Linked DNA regions of Homo sapiens. The protein of the gene in region 3 purifies or fractionates together with the protein of the main gene of each other region. This does not show direct contact. Each region holds a gene or a part of one and is shown on either strand. Other genes may lie near its edges.

The links. The genes of interacting proteins can lie anywhere in the genome.
Region 1: the proteins of PEMT (region 3) and PLCD1 purify together in Homo sapiens (affinity purification with mass spectrometry; one large-scale study listed by BioGRID and IntAct). This does not show direct contact.
Region 2: the proteins of PEMT (region 3) and FABP7 purify together in Homo sapiens (affinity purification with mass spectrometry; one large-scale study listed by BioGRID and IntAct). This does not show direct contact.
Region 4: the proteins of PEMT (region 3) and CRYBG1 purify together in Homo sapiens (affinity purification with mass spectrometry; one large-scale study listed by BioGRID and IntAct). This does not show direct contact.

Annotation. Positions count from the first base shown.
Region 1 is NC_000003.12:38,006,996-38,009,819, reverse strand, and holds the end of PLCD1 (1-phosphatidylinositol 4,5-bisphosphate phosphodiesterase delta-1), read left to right. Parts: intron 1-8; coding exon 9-167; intron 168-388; coding exon 389-548; intron 549-661; coding exon 662-778; intron 779-1,183; coding exon 1,184-1,362; intron 1,363-1,452; coding exon 1,453-1,585; intron 1,586-1,656; coding exon 1,657-1,806; intron 1,807-1,961; coding exon 1,962-2,047; 3' UTR 2,048-2,324; downstream 2,325-2,824. Other genes in the region: VILL (villin-like protein), read right to left, coding at 2,765-2,824. UniProt on the Homo sapiens protein: The production of the second messenger molecules diacylglycerol (DAG) and inositol 1,4,5-trisphosphate (IP3) is mediated by activated phosphatidylinositol-specific phospholipase C enzymes. Essential for trophoblast and placental development.
Region 2 is NC_000006.12:122,778,532-122,782,515, forward strand, and holds the start of FABP7 (fatty acid-binding protein, brain), read left to right. Parts: upstream 1-1,184; 5' UTR 1,185-1,263; coding exon 1,264-1,336; intron 1,337-1,759; coding exon 1,760-1,932; coding exon of another isoform or gene 1,933-1,980; exon of another isoform or gene 1,981-2,561; coding exon 2,562-2,663; coding exon of another isoform or gene 2,664-2,816; exon of another isoform or gene 2,817-3,984. UniProt on the Homo sapiens protein: B-FABP could be involved in the transport of a so far unknown hydrophobic ligand with potential morphogenic activity during CNS development.
Region 3 is NC_000017.11:17,508,386-17,511,708, reverse strand, and holds part of PEMT (phosphatidylethanolamine N-methyltransferase), read left to right. Parts: intron 1-2,163; coding exon 2,164-2,275; intron 2,276-3,323. UniProt on the Homo sapiens protein: Catalyzes the three sequential steps of the methylation pathway for the biosynthesis of phosphatidylcholine, a critical and essential component for membrane structure.
Region 4 is NC_000006.12:106,517,717-106,521,216, reverse strand, and holds part of CRYBG1 (beta/gamma crystallin domain-containing protein 1), read right to left. Parts: intron 2,087-3,500; coding exon 1-2,086. UniProt on the Homo sapiens protein: May function as suppressor of malignant melanoma. It may exert its effects through interactions with the cytoskeleton.

The DNA of each region.
Region 1 (2,824 bases), on a different chromosome or scaffold from region 3:
CCACCTAGCAACTGAAGGGGAAGATCCTGCTGAAGGGGAAGAAGCTCGGGGGGCTCCTGCCCCCTGGAGGGGAGGGTGGCCCTGAGGCCACTGTGGTGTCAGACGAAGACGAGGCTGCTGAGATGGAGGATGAGGCAGTGAGGAGCCGTGTGCAGCACAAGCCCAAGGTTTGAGGGGGAGCTGTGGGGTGGGGCAGCCCGGGCCTTCCCCATCCCCTCACCCGTGGGAGGTCTGCCTTGTCTCAGTTCTCTGTGGCTGCCACTCAGACCCTCTGCCCCGCTCTCTCTGTCTGTCTCCCTCTGTCTCTCTGCGCCTGGGTTTCTGGCTTTCTCAGTGCCTACCCTACCCCAACCACTGAATCTAACCCGGGCCTCCCCGTGTTCCCCAGGAGGACAAGCTCAGGCTAGCACAGGAGCTCTCTGACATGGTCATTTACTGCAAGAGTGTCCACTTTGGGGGCTTCTCCAGTCCTGGCACCCCTGGACAGGCCTTCTACGAGATGGCGTCCTTCTCTGAGAACCGTGCCCTTCGACTGCTCCAAGAATCAGGTGAGGCCTGGCTCCCCACCACTCCCCTGCTCTGTTACAGAGAGAATTGGCAGGGCAGGGCTTGGGCCTCACCAGGAGGCCTCCACTGCTGACCGAACCACACCTCCCCTCAGGAAACGGCTTTGTCCGCCACAACGTGGGGCACCTGAGCAGAATCTACCCGGCTGGATGGAGAACAGACTCCTCCAACTACAGCCCCGTGGAGATGTGGAATGGGGGCTGCCAGATCGGTATGGGCTGGCTGGGGCTGGAGGAGGCCTGGAGGAGGGTTTCAGTCCCAAGGCCGGGGGCCTGGAGCCTCGAAGGCCATGCAGTGGAGCTCTGAGGACCCAAGCAGGGTCAAATGCAGGGGCTTGTGGAGCTGGTAATATCAGTCTGGAAATATCTGCCCACCAGCATGTCACAGTGTCTGAAACCTCATTAGCACACTAGTCCTTTGAATTCTCACACCAGGAATGGAAGGTGTGGTTAGCATGGTGGGTCACTGAGGGTGGCAGGAGGGCAGCAGGCATTGGAGTGATGCTGGGCCCTGCTAACTCACCATGTGACCCTAGGCCTTAGTGTACCCTGAGCAGGCTGTGCTCTAGGGCCCCAGGGCCAGCCCACAGCCTGTGACTGCTCTGTCCTGCCTGTAGTGGCCCTGAATTTCCAGACACCTGGGCCAGAGATGGACGTGTACCAGGGCCGCTTCCAGGACAACGGGGCCTGTGGGTACGTGCTGAAGCCCGCCTTCCTGCGAGACCCCAACGGCACCTTTAACCCCCGCGCCCTGGCTCAGGGGCCCTGGTGGGCACGGAAGCGGCTCAACATCAGGGTACGCTGGACCTAGGAGGGACAGGTGCCCACGGACCTCCCTTCCCCGCTACCACTCCTGAACTGTCCATTGTCCTCTGCCTTTCCTCAGGTCATTTCGGGGCAGCAGCTGCCAAAAGTCAACAAGAATAAGAATTCAATTGTGGACCCCAAAGTGACAGTGGAGATCCATGGCGTGAGCCGGGACGTGGCCAGCCGCCAGACTGCTGTCATCACCAACAATGGTAGGTGCTGGGCCTGGGCTGGGCTACTAGGGCTGGTGTCCATGCTGCTGATATGGTGCCTGTCCCCCTAGGTTTCAACCCATGGTGGGACACGGAGTTTGCGTTTGAGGTAGTTGTGCCTGACCTTGCCCTCATCCGCTTCTTGGTGGAAGATTATGATGCCTCCTCCAAGAATGACTTCATTGGCCAGAGTACCATCCCCTTGAACAGCCTCAAGCAAGGTGAGTGTCAAGAGAAGGGGATGGCCAAGGTGGTGGGAAGCAGGGCCTGGCGTCTCTTGGGCTGGGGCTGGCTGTCCCTTGACGCATCCACCCCCCCTCCGCCGCCGAATGACCAGAACTCTCTCTGTGTTCCCTCCTGCCTGTCCACCCACCAGGATACCGCCATGTCCACCTCATGTCTAAGAACGGGGACCAGCATCCATCAGCCACCCTCTTTGTGAAGATCTCCCTCCAGGACTAGGCTGGAGGAAGCCAGTGGGGTCCCCCCTGAGTGGGCTGGGCCCTCTGTCCACATGTGGGGACAGGGCTGGTGTGGCTGCTCCCAGCCTCTTGCTCAGAGCTAGGCCCCCAAATTGCCTTCAGCCCTAACATAGTGTCTGCTGCTGCCTCCCTGGGGACCAGGAGCTAGCCCAGTCCCTGGAGCTGTCCTTCATTCCGTTAGGAATAACACTGCAGCCCTCTCCACCCTCCGGCCAGCGAGTGGTCAAGGATTTTTATAAAAATCACGATAAGATTAAGCCTTGTGGTCTCTTTACCTGGATGCCAGAAAAATCCCCTGTGAAGCGTGTGTGTGTGTGTGTGTGTGTGTGTGTGTGTGTGTGTGTGTGTGTGTCCCCATGTCCTAGAGTGCTGGAGCCCTAGCACCTCACTCTCCACCTTCCTTGCACATAGTTGAGTAGGGCAGGGGTATCTGGAGAGACCAACGAGAAATAAACCCCTCTGTGGGGTGGCACTGAGAGCTCACACCCGCCAGCCCTGGAGGCCCCTTCCCCTGAGAGGTGGACCTGCTGAGTGGCCCGGGCTTGAAAGCACGCATACCACAGCTCGTATGGGCTGCCTGCTTTTACTGACACGCAGAGGATGACCAAAAGCCTCTGAGGGGAGTGGAAGCAGGGCCTCCCCAGCATTGTAGGTATGTTGGGGTCCAGGGGATAGGGGCAGTCGAGAGGGCTTGGGTTCAGAAGAAGCCCAGCTGCTTTTTCTCCTGCCGCTGCCTCCACGTGGCCATGCTGTAGAA
Region 2 (3,984 bases), on a different chromosome or scaffold from region 3:
AATATCAAGTCGGATTCTCCTGCTCTGTCCCCAGGAGAGGCAGGTAAGCTGCTTTCATTGCTGGTCAGCACTAGTAAGTCAGGAAGGAATCTCTTTGGGTGAAGGGGAATTTCAGAGACTTCCTTTAAATACTCTACTTAGAACCCTCAAGGTATTTGCCATTCTTGGGGAACCCTGAGCCAGGGCAAACTGAAACCAAAGCCCTTCTGATTCCTACCGCTCCTCCAGTTCCTGCCCTTCCCCATCACTAACTCCCAACAAATGTACACAGATTGTATTTGTGTAGATGTGGCCTCAGGAAATCAAAAGGTCCTAGAATGCAGGTAATTTAAAGTCTTACTAAATAATCTTCTGTCCAGTTTTTCCACATGGGTTCTATAATCTATTCAAGGAGATCGGGGGGAAAAGCATTCTTTTATTTATTTTTGTACCTCATTAGTAAGTCCTAACCATACTCTTCCTTAGGTCCCTTTTCCAACTCAGTCTCGTTCTCACATTTTTAGAAAGGACAACGGGATCTTTAAATTCTCTCGGTTTGTGTTGGGAAAGGACCCAAATTAGTGTGCTTCCTCATTGACAGTCAGAGTAGCCTTCAAGCAGTATATCCAGGGAAGGCATTTACACCTCCTCCCCGCCCTCTTTTTCAGTTTGGCCTACTCTAGCCTGCATTTCGCTCTCCCTGTAACTATGAGAGAAAATAACACACACTATTCACTCTCCTTTGTCTGCAAAGTCTGGCATTTCAGTGGTTTTCTTTAAGGGGGGTCCTCATTTGTGACCAGCTTTGTCATTAACGGAAATCAATCTGAATGCCCCATTGTGCATCTTTTTTCTTTCCTTGCAGTCTGAGATTGCCTTTGCCAAGTTTTTTCTCACCGAACCTGAAAGCCCTTCTCTCATTTTCCCGTTCCCTGCCTCCAGCCCCATTGAATCCCTGCCGAGCTTTCTCAGGCATAAGGGCTGTAGTGTGAGGATTGGGAGGAACTCGACCTACTCCGCTAACCCAGTGGCCTGAGCCAATCACAAAGAGGATTGGAGCCTCACTCGAGCGCTCCTTCCCTTCTCCTCTCTCTGTGACAGCCTCTTGGAAAGAGGGACACTGGAGGGGTGTGTTTGCAATTTAAATCACTGGATTTTTGCCCACCCTCTTTCCAAATAAGAAGGCAGGAGCTGCTTGCTGAGGTGTAAAGGGTCTTCTGAGCTGCAGTGGCAATTAGACCAGAAGATCCCCGCTCCTGTCTCTAAAGAGGGGAAAGGGCAAGGATGGTGGAGGCTTTCTGTGCTACCTGGAAGCTGACCAACAGTCAGAACTTTGATGAGTACATGAAGGCTCTAGGTAGGTAACAATAAGACCGGCTGTTCTCTTCTCAACGTGCAGCTTTAGATATTTGCAGATTCCATTTTTCACTCATCAGGTCAGCAAGAGGCAAAGACAGATCACATTGCCCTGATCAGATGCTAGGCTATGCATTTTCCACTGAATGGATTTTTAATGTGGCACTTGCTTGCCTTCTTACCCAGGGCCAATAAAAACAGAACATTTGCTATTCCGTGGAGAATATGAAGCTTCTCTGACTTTTTTGGTTTTCTTCTGCATCCACTTATTATCACAGTAGTGTTTTACATGATTAATGGGCTAATCATGTTCTAATGAAACTTACACTTTAGAACGTGGATTCCAGAATCAGAAAGCAGATTCTTGCTTTGTGAGTTATTTTGGAAGTCGCTGCAGACTGTACTGTTCCCTTTGCTATTTTAGGCGTGGGCTTTGCCACTAGGCAGGTGGGAAATGTGACCAAACCAACGGTAATTATCAGTCAAGAAGGAGACAAAGTGGTCATCAGGACTCTCAGCACATTCAAGAACACGGAGATTAGTTTCCAGCTGGGAGAAGAGTTTGATGAAACCACTGCAGATGATAGAAACTGTAAGGTGAGAAACTGCTTCTTCTTCAGAGTGGGGATGGGGAGAGGGGAATAAAGATAAAGATTTCCAATGCATGTTTTTTTTAAGATGTTGGAAAGTGTAGAATATTTTCAGTATTTCAATCCAAGGAGAAATACACCAAAGTTAGTTTAATGTGCATATGTTATATTTTGAACAATGGGTACTTGCTATAGCATAAATCTCAGTTGTATTTGTCTCTTACCATATACTGTTCACATTTTATATCAAACTTGTATTTCAGAAAATATTTAATAAGGTTTGTTTGAAAGAGAGATTGCATTTTGTTTAATTCCCCAGGTTGCCTCAGATTGACTAAATAGACAGTTTGCCTCATTCTAAGGCTTTCTTTAGAGGGACGACTAGCTGCAAAGCACTGGTTTAGGATTTTTGTTTTTAATATATTAAATTTTTGTATTTAGATGTATACTTTTTAATCAAATTATGAATTCAAATTTACATAATAGAAAATCTAGAAGTAATAGAAATAACAATAGGATAATTAACTGATCATGATTTATTCAATTATACAACTCTTTCAAAAATCACATCGTCTTCCGTATCAGAAATCTGAATTGTATTTATTGCTATGTTCTGCATTTTGTTGTTGGTCTCAGTCTGTTGTTAGCCTGGATGGAGACAAACTTGTTCACATACAGAAATGGGATGGCAAAGAAACAAATTTTGTAAGAGAAATTAAGGATGGCAAAATGGTTATGGTAAGTAATGACAATTCTCCATTCTTCCTTGTTTTTTTCTCCTCTCCGCACACCTCTCACCTCCTTCCTTCTTCTTCCCTCCTCCTTCCATTCTTCCTCCTTCCTTCCTTCTTTAATAATACATCACTGGCAAGGTTCTTTAACTATATGTAAAACAGGGGAAACAAAAAGATCCCAGTTAATTTTCTTCTTCAGCTCAACTTCTTTGATTGTAGAAAAAGAGAAAAATTCATGTGTAGTTAAAAAAATAAAAGTTGCCATTGATTTGCCTAAAACTGTGTCAAAAGATTTTTTGTAGGATAACTATGGATGTCTCTCAAATAAAATTTAATATAAAGCCCATAATCACTGAAATATATAAAGATAATTGCTATTATAAGAGAATCTCAGACAGATGACTTTATAGCTCCTGTAATAAGAGATCTTTAAACAGTTTATATTTTAATTTATAAAGTTACACAAGTTCTGGGCAGATAATTTAGAATATAACAGAAAAGTATAACAAAAAAATTAAAATCCCCTCTGATTTCTCATCAGTGATAACCCTTTTTTTTTTTTTTTTTTGAGATAAAGTCTTGCTGTGTCACCCAGACTGGAGTGCAGGGGGTGCATTCTTGGCTCACTGCAACCTCTGCTTCATGGGCTCAAGCGATTCTACAACCTCAGCCTCCTAAGTAGCTGGGACCACAGGTGCAAGCCACCAACGCCGGGCTAATTTTTTTGTATTTTTGTAGAGATGGGATTTCGCCATGTTGCCCAGGCTGGCCTACAGCTCTTGAGCTCAAAGTGATGCTCCCGCCTGCTGCCTCGGCCTCCCAGAGTGCTGGGATTACAGGCCTGAGCCAAGGCTCCCAGCCCCCAAAGAGAACCATTTTGATGTTACTTCTTTCCAGTTTTTTTCTCGAATGCATAATATGCCTTTTAAACATATATATTCAATACTAGGTAGACATGAAAAATATTTTTTTCAATCAGCCTCTTCTTACTTACTAGGAATTATCTGTAAAAGAGGATTTATTAGTGTCCTAAGGCTGCCACAACAAAGTACCACAAACTTGGTGGCTTAAAACAACAGAAATGAATTTTCTCAGTTCTGAAAGCTGGACGCCTGAGATCAAGGCGACCCTAGTGTTGCCATCCTTCTGCGGGCCCCCTCCCTTGCTTCTTCCTACTTCCCGGATGGCTCCTGGCAATCATTGAGGTTGTTGGGCTTACAGTTGTTATTACTCTGATCCATTTCTGACTCCATCTTTACAAGACTTTTTCCTCTGTTTTTGTCCTAAATTGATCAAATATAAAATAATTAACAAATAATTTATCT
Region 3 (3,323 bases):
TTGGTCCAGCTGGCCGCATTGCCCGCTCTCCGTCATGGGTGGGAAGGCCCACGTCTTCCTCCCCATCAGCCCTGGCCAGTGCAGGAGCTTGGAAGTCACTCGGCTTCAGTGGCCTCAGTAGCCTCCTGGGACCAACGGTGTCCTGAGGAGCTCCCGGGCCTGCCTGCCATCCCCATCCTCAGATGCCGGCTACAGCTCCTTGGGCCCAGCCCCCAGGGCACCGTGGGCTGTCACAGGGCACTCCAAGTTCTCAAGGAGCTTGTGCCTGCCAGTAGGGGTCCCCCCGAGGGAGGAAGTGGCATCTGTGGGTGCAGCATTCTGGATCGCCCATGGCCAGGCCTCTCTGGGACTGTGGGGGGCACCCACAGGCAGTTCAGTGCTTCCTGCTCAGGCAGACGCTGTAGGGAGTTTGGTCCAGGAAGGGGGACAGCAGCCAGGAGCGTCTGGATCTGCCAGGTGGGGGCAGGTGCGGGCAGGTAGGAAAGAGAAAAAAGCCTTGGTGCAAGGAGAGGGAGGTTGAGGGCAGAGTAGCTGGCAGCTGGAGGTGGGGGGCAGCTGGACTGGCCGCACAGGTGCTGTCGGTTGGGACAGGGCAGGAGGATGAGCCGAGGCCTTGAAGGCCATCCAAGGGGCTGAGGCTCCATCCCCAGAGAGGTGGGAGCCATAGGGGGGGTCCCAGCAAGGAAGAGGTTGGACCGATGGAGCCAGGATCAGAGGTGGGGCTCAGGAGGAGCTGTGGAGGGGCCCTTCCAGGATGTGAGGGCGGTGAGGGCCCCATGGGAAGGGGGACTCCGGGCTGTGCAATCAGGTCCTGTGGGAGACCAGCGGCGGGGGCCCTCCAGTGGCCAGTGCTCGGGTGGATCTGGACAGGGAGGGCTGCAGAGGCAGCGTAAGGAGAGCCAGGATGGTGGGTGGAGCCCCTCAGCAGTGGAAGAACAAGCTGGGGGTCCTGGACAGTCAGAGGGAGGGAAGGAGCCTGCAAACACCAGTGGCCACAGCCTCCTGGCGGCCCTGCCAGCAGACATGGCCTAGAAACACCGAGGACCAGCAGCGCGGTATGTAGGCAAAGGTGGTCACTTCCTGCTGTGACTCAGCTCGAATTGGGTTTCTGTGCCATCTACGCACACCCTGTGCCCCACTTCCTGCTTCCTGGGAAGAAAGAACTTTCCAGTGGTCCTGGGCCCTGCCCCGTGTCCCCAGATGGTGATGAAGCTCCTGGACCCCTCCTGCCCATGCTGCCCATTGTCGGGCAGCTGCCCTACTTTCCGCCTTGGATGAAGCTCCATTGTCCTCTGGGAGGAGAGACAAATGAGGGGTTTCTGGGGACAGAAGGCTGGGAGGAACGAAGCCACACCCTTTATGGAGCGGTTACTCTGTGTCCAGTGGGACTGTCCTCTGTGGGCCTGGGACAGACACTGTGACTGTGACCCCGGCCACTCCCTTATGGCTCAGAGCAGCTCTGCCGGGGGACGCCTTGTGGCTGTGCGGCTGACGGGTGCATGGCTGGCCTGTCTGGAACAGGCTGTTCAATAGTCACCCTCTCTCCACTGGGTCTAGCTCCTCTGGGCAGCTGAGTGAGAAAACAATACCAGAGCTGACCTCCCAGAGCAACGGGAGGCGTGCTGTGGCCAGGCCCTGGTGCCAGAGCCACACAGCCTGGGGTGTGGAGCAGAGCAGCCCTTAGCAACCAGCTGAGGCCCCTAGAGGGAGAGGAACTCACCAGAGCGAGGAAGAGTGGGAGGTAGGACAGGAAGAGGAAGGGTCTGCATAAAGAGGCGCCATGAGCAGAGGGCGAAGGGCCTGAGGAGGAAAGGCGCTCTCTGTACAGAGAGCAGGGAAAGGCATCGCAGGGGAGGGAACAGCGTGTGCAGAGCCAGGAAGAAGAGGAAGGCCAGCATGGCTGGGTCAGAGTGCTCGAGAAGAGGAGCAGTGGGGCAGGGGCGGTGCTCAGCACCTTAGTCCTTAGGCCCCACGCCCTCTGCTGTCTGCGTGCCTGTTGGGTCCCTCTGACTCTGCCCATTGTTGAACTCTCTGAAGTCTCCTGGAGGGCAGGGCCCTGTCTCACCTGCAGGTCTCGCCACAGCCCGCTCTGGGGCCTCCCTCAGTGATGGTGTGGCCAGGGCTGATGAATAGCCGAGGGACCCTGCCTTGCCTCATCCACAGGTGATTACTTCGGGATCCTCAAGGAGGCGAGAGTGACCGTGTTCCCCTTCAACATCCTGGACAACCCCATGTACTGGGGAAGCACAGCCAACTACCTGGGCTGGGCCATCATGTGAGTACCAGGCTTGCCACCCCTCTGCCCTGCTGGCCACCTCCCGGAGAGGAGCTGGTGCAGCTCAGGACGCGGGGGCCAGGGCCCCTGGAGAGAGAGAAAGGAAGAACGTGTCATTTGTGGGGGCCTAGGCGCCCTGGTTCTCCCTTTCTCAGAAGCGTCTTATCTATGGTAACAGAAACAACATCCCAGAACAGGGTGGTCAGCTTCTCCAAAGAGGGCTGGAGTGTGGAGGCTCAAAGGCTGCAGGCAGGTCACAGCTGCTCAGCCCTGGTCCTGCCACACAAAACAGCTGCAGACGCAGGAAAATGGATGCGCGTCTTTGGCGCCAGCACAGCTCCACTTACAGACACTGAAGCCTAAATTTCAGATTCTTTTCACGTGTCATGAAACATTCTTTTTGATCCTTTTGCTTTTAACCGTTTAAAAATGTAACAGGCGTTCTTGGCCCCTAGGCCGTAGTTTGCGGACCCTTGTGCGGGGACATCAGGGCTGGGACCACCCGACCCATCTTCCCCGCAGGAGGGGTTGGCCAGAGCCGCCAGGGCCCAGCTCACCCGCAGCTGACAGAACTCCCTGTGCCCCAATAGCCTCTGCCCATGTGGCAGATACCCCTTCCCACAGAGGGGGCCCCGTGCCATGAGGGAAGCCTAGAACTGCTGTCGGCCTCAGCCAGGTACGGGTACTGACAAGGTATGGAGATGTGCTCCCCCGGCGGGTCAGAGGACCTGCGGTCAAGGATGGCACAGCGGGCGCTGCCCTCGGCTTCATACCCAGCCCCCACCCCAGCAGTTCTAGTTTAGCCATTTTCTTCCATAGAAGGTTTTTTGGCAGACAGTGTTCCACTGCTTTTGTTTAACACTTGAAAACCACTGGCCTAGAATTTACAGGTTCTCCACAAGACCTGAGGATCCCAAAGGAGTGAATCGTAAACAGTGAATGTCAAGCGCAAGATGTTGCCTCCTGGCTCCCACCTTCAGCAGTTGGGACCGTAGCAGCGGGGGTTGGAGACAGCAGAAGCTAGAAGGGGGGCTGTGGGTCTGGCTGG
Region 4 (3,500 bases), on a different chromosome or scaffold from region 3:
TTTTTGCGGGTATTTTTCCATGTGGCTTGGACTTTTCAAACTGGAGTGTGATGTACTTGACGAGTTGAAATTGAAGACCTTTAAGGAGTTGTCGGGCAGAAGATTTGACTGTTCTTTGTTCAAACCACAGGGCGGGGCACCCTCAGTCGTGGGCTGTGACACTGAAGACTGAGATAGGGAACCGTTCTGAGAAGTACTGAAAGCCGTGGTCATAGTGTTGACTGATGTCACAGAAGGAGAAAAGATTTTGTCTTGTGGTAAAGAAGATAACAAGCTTGAGAAAAGTGCACTTTTTTCTAGTCTCGATCTCTTAATGCCACCATTTGTGACGTCCCTGTTCTCTTTGTCATTGATTTCCGGCATCACCAGAGGCTCACTGTTCCCATTAGTGTTGGTGTGCAGGGACTTGAAGAGGACGCTCTGTTCAGCAGATGCACGTTTGGGTCTCAGTTTGGATTTTGTGTCAAGGTTCTGCATCAAATGTAAAGCCGGTGACATTTCTGGCTGACTTTCCTTCTTCTTCCCCAAACCAAAGGTAAACACTTTGGGATCAAACACCTTTTCTAAATGGTCTTCGTGAATAGGAGGCATGGCAAAGTGAGGAGCAGGAGAGTTTGGCATCCTGGCCTTCTTTCTTTTCATGGGCATACAAACTGCGCTATCCATCTGTTTTATAATTTCAGTGAATTTTTCCATATCAGAAGAAGAATCAAATACACTATCATCACTACCAGCAGAAATGTTCAAAAGGCTGGCAGGGCTATCCTGGCCATTTGTAACAGTCTGATCTGGCCTTTGAGGAGTGGCTAAGTGATTTCCGCTGCTGGGAGAGTTGGTGGGACTGGATTCAGCCATCAGGGGTGTTCTGCTGCCCTGACTTTGAGCCTGAATAGGCAGAGTTTTCTCTGATGCTGGCGGTATGACTTGTGGGCCAGATTTTGCCGCGAGCTCTGCTGTGCAATGAGAGTGTTCATTGCCCAGTACTTCCTCTTGTGGGGGAGCACAACTTGCAACGGAAACCACTTCAGGTTCATTACTGTGACAAGTTGGCAACTGCACTTCTCTAACTTCAGAGCTCTCTGGGATGACCTGGGAGCTCACATCCTGGGTGCTCTCCACGGGGAGCACGAAGGACCTGACCTGGACGAGGACTCTGGATGGACACTCACTTCCCACAGCTTCTGGACTACGCTCTGTGGACAAAGGAGGGGTTGTTTCTCCTCCAAGTTCTAAAAGTGGCATTTTCTCATTGTTCTGACGAGACACAGGCAAAACACATCCTTTATGGTTTTCTGACACTTTTAGATCAGTGCATGGGAAACTGCTTATGGGTGATTGAACACATGTGTCTTTGGGAACATCCCCAGGAGCGGGTGCAGACAGTGAAAGAGAAGGCCCAGGAGATGACTCAGCAGGGGACTGTGAGTCAGAAAATGTATGCTGTGGCTTTGGCATGGCCGTTGGAGGTAAATCTTTGGTATCCACAGTGGTGGGGATGTCTTGTGCTGTATCGGTTACATTTTCAAGTACAAGGCTTTTGCTGTCTGCAGCCTCTGAGTCCTCCTTCTCTAAGAGCTTATGATCCTTGACAGGAATCAGAGCAGAAGCCACTGGTTCTGAAAGGCAGCCAGCATCTGTTTGTACATCTGCTTTATCATCTTGGTTAGGCTGAGGACCAAGAGCTTGATTCTCAGAAGAGTCTCCATTCATTCCTCTGGTTGCTGGCAGAATCTCTTCTTCCGAGACGGTAACTTTGGTTTCTATAGCAGTTTCCTTAACCAGCACACCATTCTGGGGACTGTTTGGCATTACTTTCTTTTCAGGTTGCTCCATTTCTTTGGCTTTTTTGGCTAAATTCAGCTTTGCCCTCCCAACAAACGTTTTACTAGAGGCAGGAGTATTCCTTTGGCCTCGAATGTCAGTGTGTCTTGGGCTACTGTTTGTCCGTTTGTTTTCAAATAAGGAGATTTTGGTGGCAGTGTTGCCTTTGTGAACTGGCTGGCTAAATGGATTGTGCTCATTTCCCAAACTGTCAAGATTCTTAGGGGTTTTAAGATTTAGTTCCACATGTTTGGGCTTGGCAGGGCTGTGAGGAAAAAGCAGGAAGATAAAGTTATTGACCTAGTTTTAAAAAGTGAACACACAAACCAATTAATTATAAAACTATGAAAAGCCAACATCTCCCTGATATATAACATTTGGAGTGTGGTGTGTGTGTGTGTGTATGTGTGTGTGTGTGTGCGCACACATGTGTTTTTAAGACAAGGTCTTGCTCTGTCGCCAAGACTGGAGTACAGCAGTGTGATCATAGATTGCTGCAGCCTCGAACTCCTGGGCTCAGGCAATCCTCCTGCTTCAGCCTCCCAGGTAGCTGGGACTACAGGCACATATCACACACCCAACTAATTTTTTTATTTTTATTTTTTTGTAGAATGGGGTCTATGTCACCCAGGCTGGTCTCAAACTCCTGGCTTCAAGCAATCCTCCCATCTTGGCCTCCCCAAGTGCTGGGATTACAGGCATGAGCCACCATTCTCTGCCACATTTGTTTTTTAATGAAACTATTTTTAAATAGTCCTAAGTACACTACCAACTATTTTTAATGGGTGTTTTGCTTGCATATGAGGGATCGGAAGATTATATAGCCAAGAAACTCTAGGGATGAGGGATGAACTAATTTATTGAGTACGTAGCATGTATGCACAGTGCTTGGCACTAGAGTTGGAAGACATCTTAAGGCCTGAACAACATTAGAAGAAATTTAAATATTTAATGCATTCTCATGCTCCAACATCAATTATGTATTTTTATTTTAGCATAACTTTTTAAATATTATCTCAAAAGGATAGATTTTAAAAATTCATCTACTATTGACCGCTTTGGATATTTTATTCATCTCATCCTTCCCCCATAAGATTTTCTCTGATTATAAGTGTGTTCACTATAGCAACTTTGGATAATATTTAAAAATCACTGATAATCCTACCAGTCAGACAATATCCCTGTTAACATTTTTATATGTTTCTAATCTTTTTATATGCATAATTAAATATTTTGAATAGAATTGAGATTATTCTGTTCATATAATTTGATATCTTGCTTTTTCAAGAAATAAAATGACTTAACCTTATAGTTAACATTTTTCAGATTACCAAAAAATTTGTTTGAAAAGTTGTCTTAATGCTGCATGGAAGTCCATCATATGGATGTACCGTCATTTACTTATCAATTATGCAACTGTTGGTTTTGTCACCACTTCTTGGGCAAGAGAGTCTCCCCTCTCTCCGTCACATTTCTTGGGTATAATTACCCCCAGTGGAAATAATAAGTCTTTGAATGTACACAGTGCTTTCTTTCAGAGAAACAAAATGTGCTCTGTTTGGCATTCTCTGGCTCTGGTCCTGGCTTTTATGCTAATTATCTGTGTGAACCTGGTCAAGTTACTTTACCTCTCTGGACTCTAACTTCTTCATCTTTAAAAAAAATGAGATGGTTTAGAA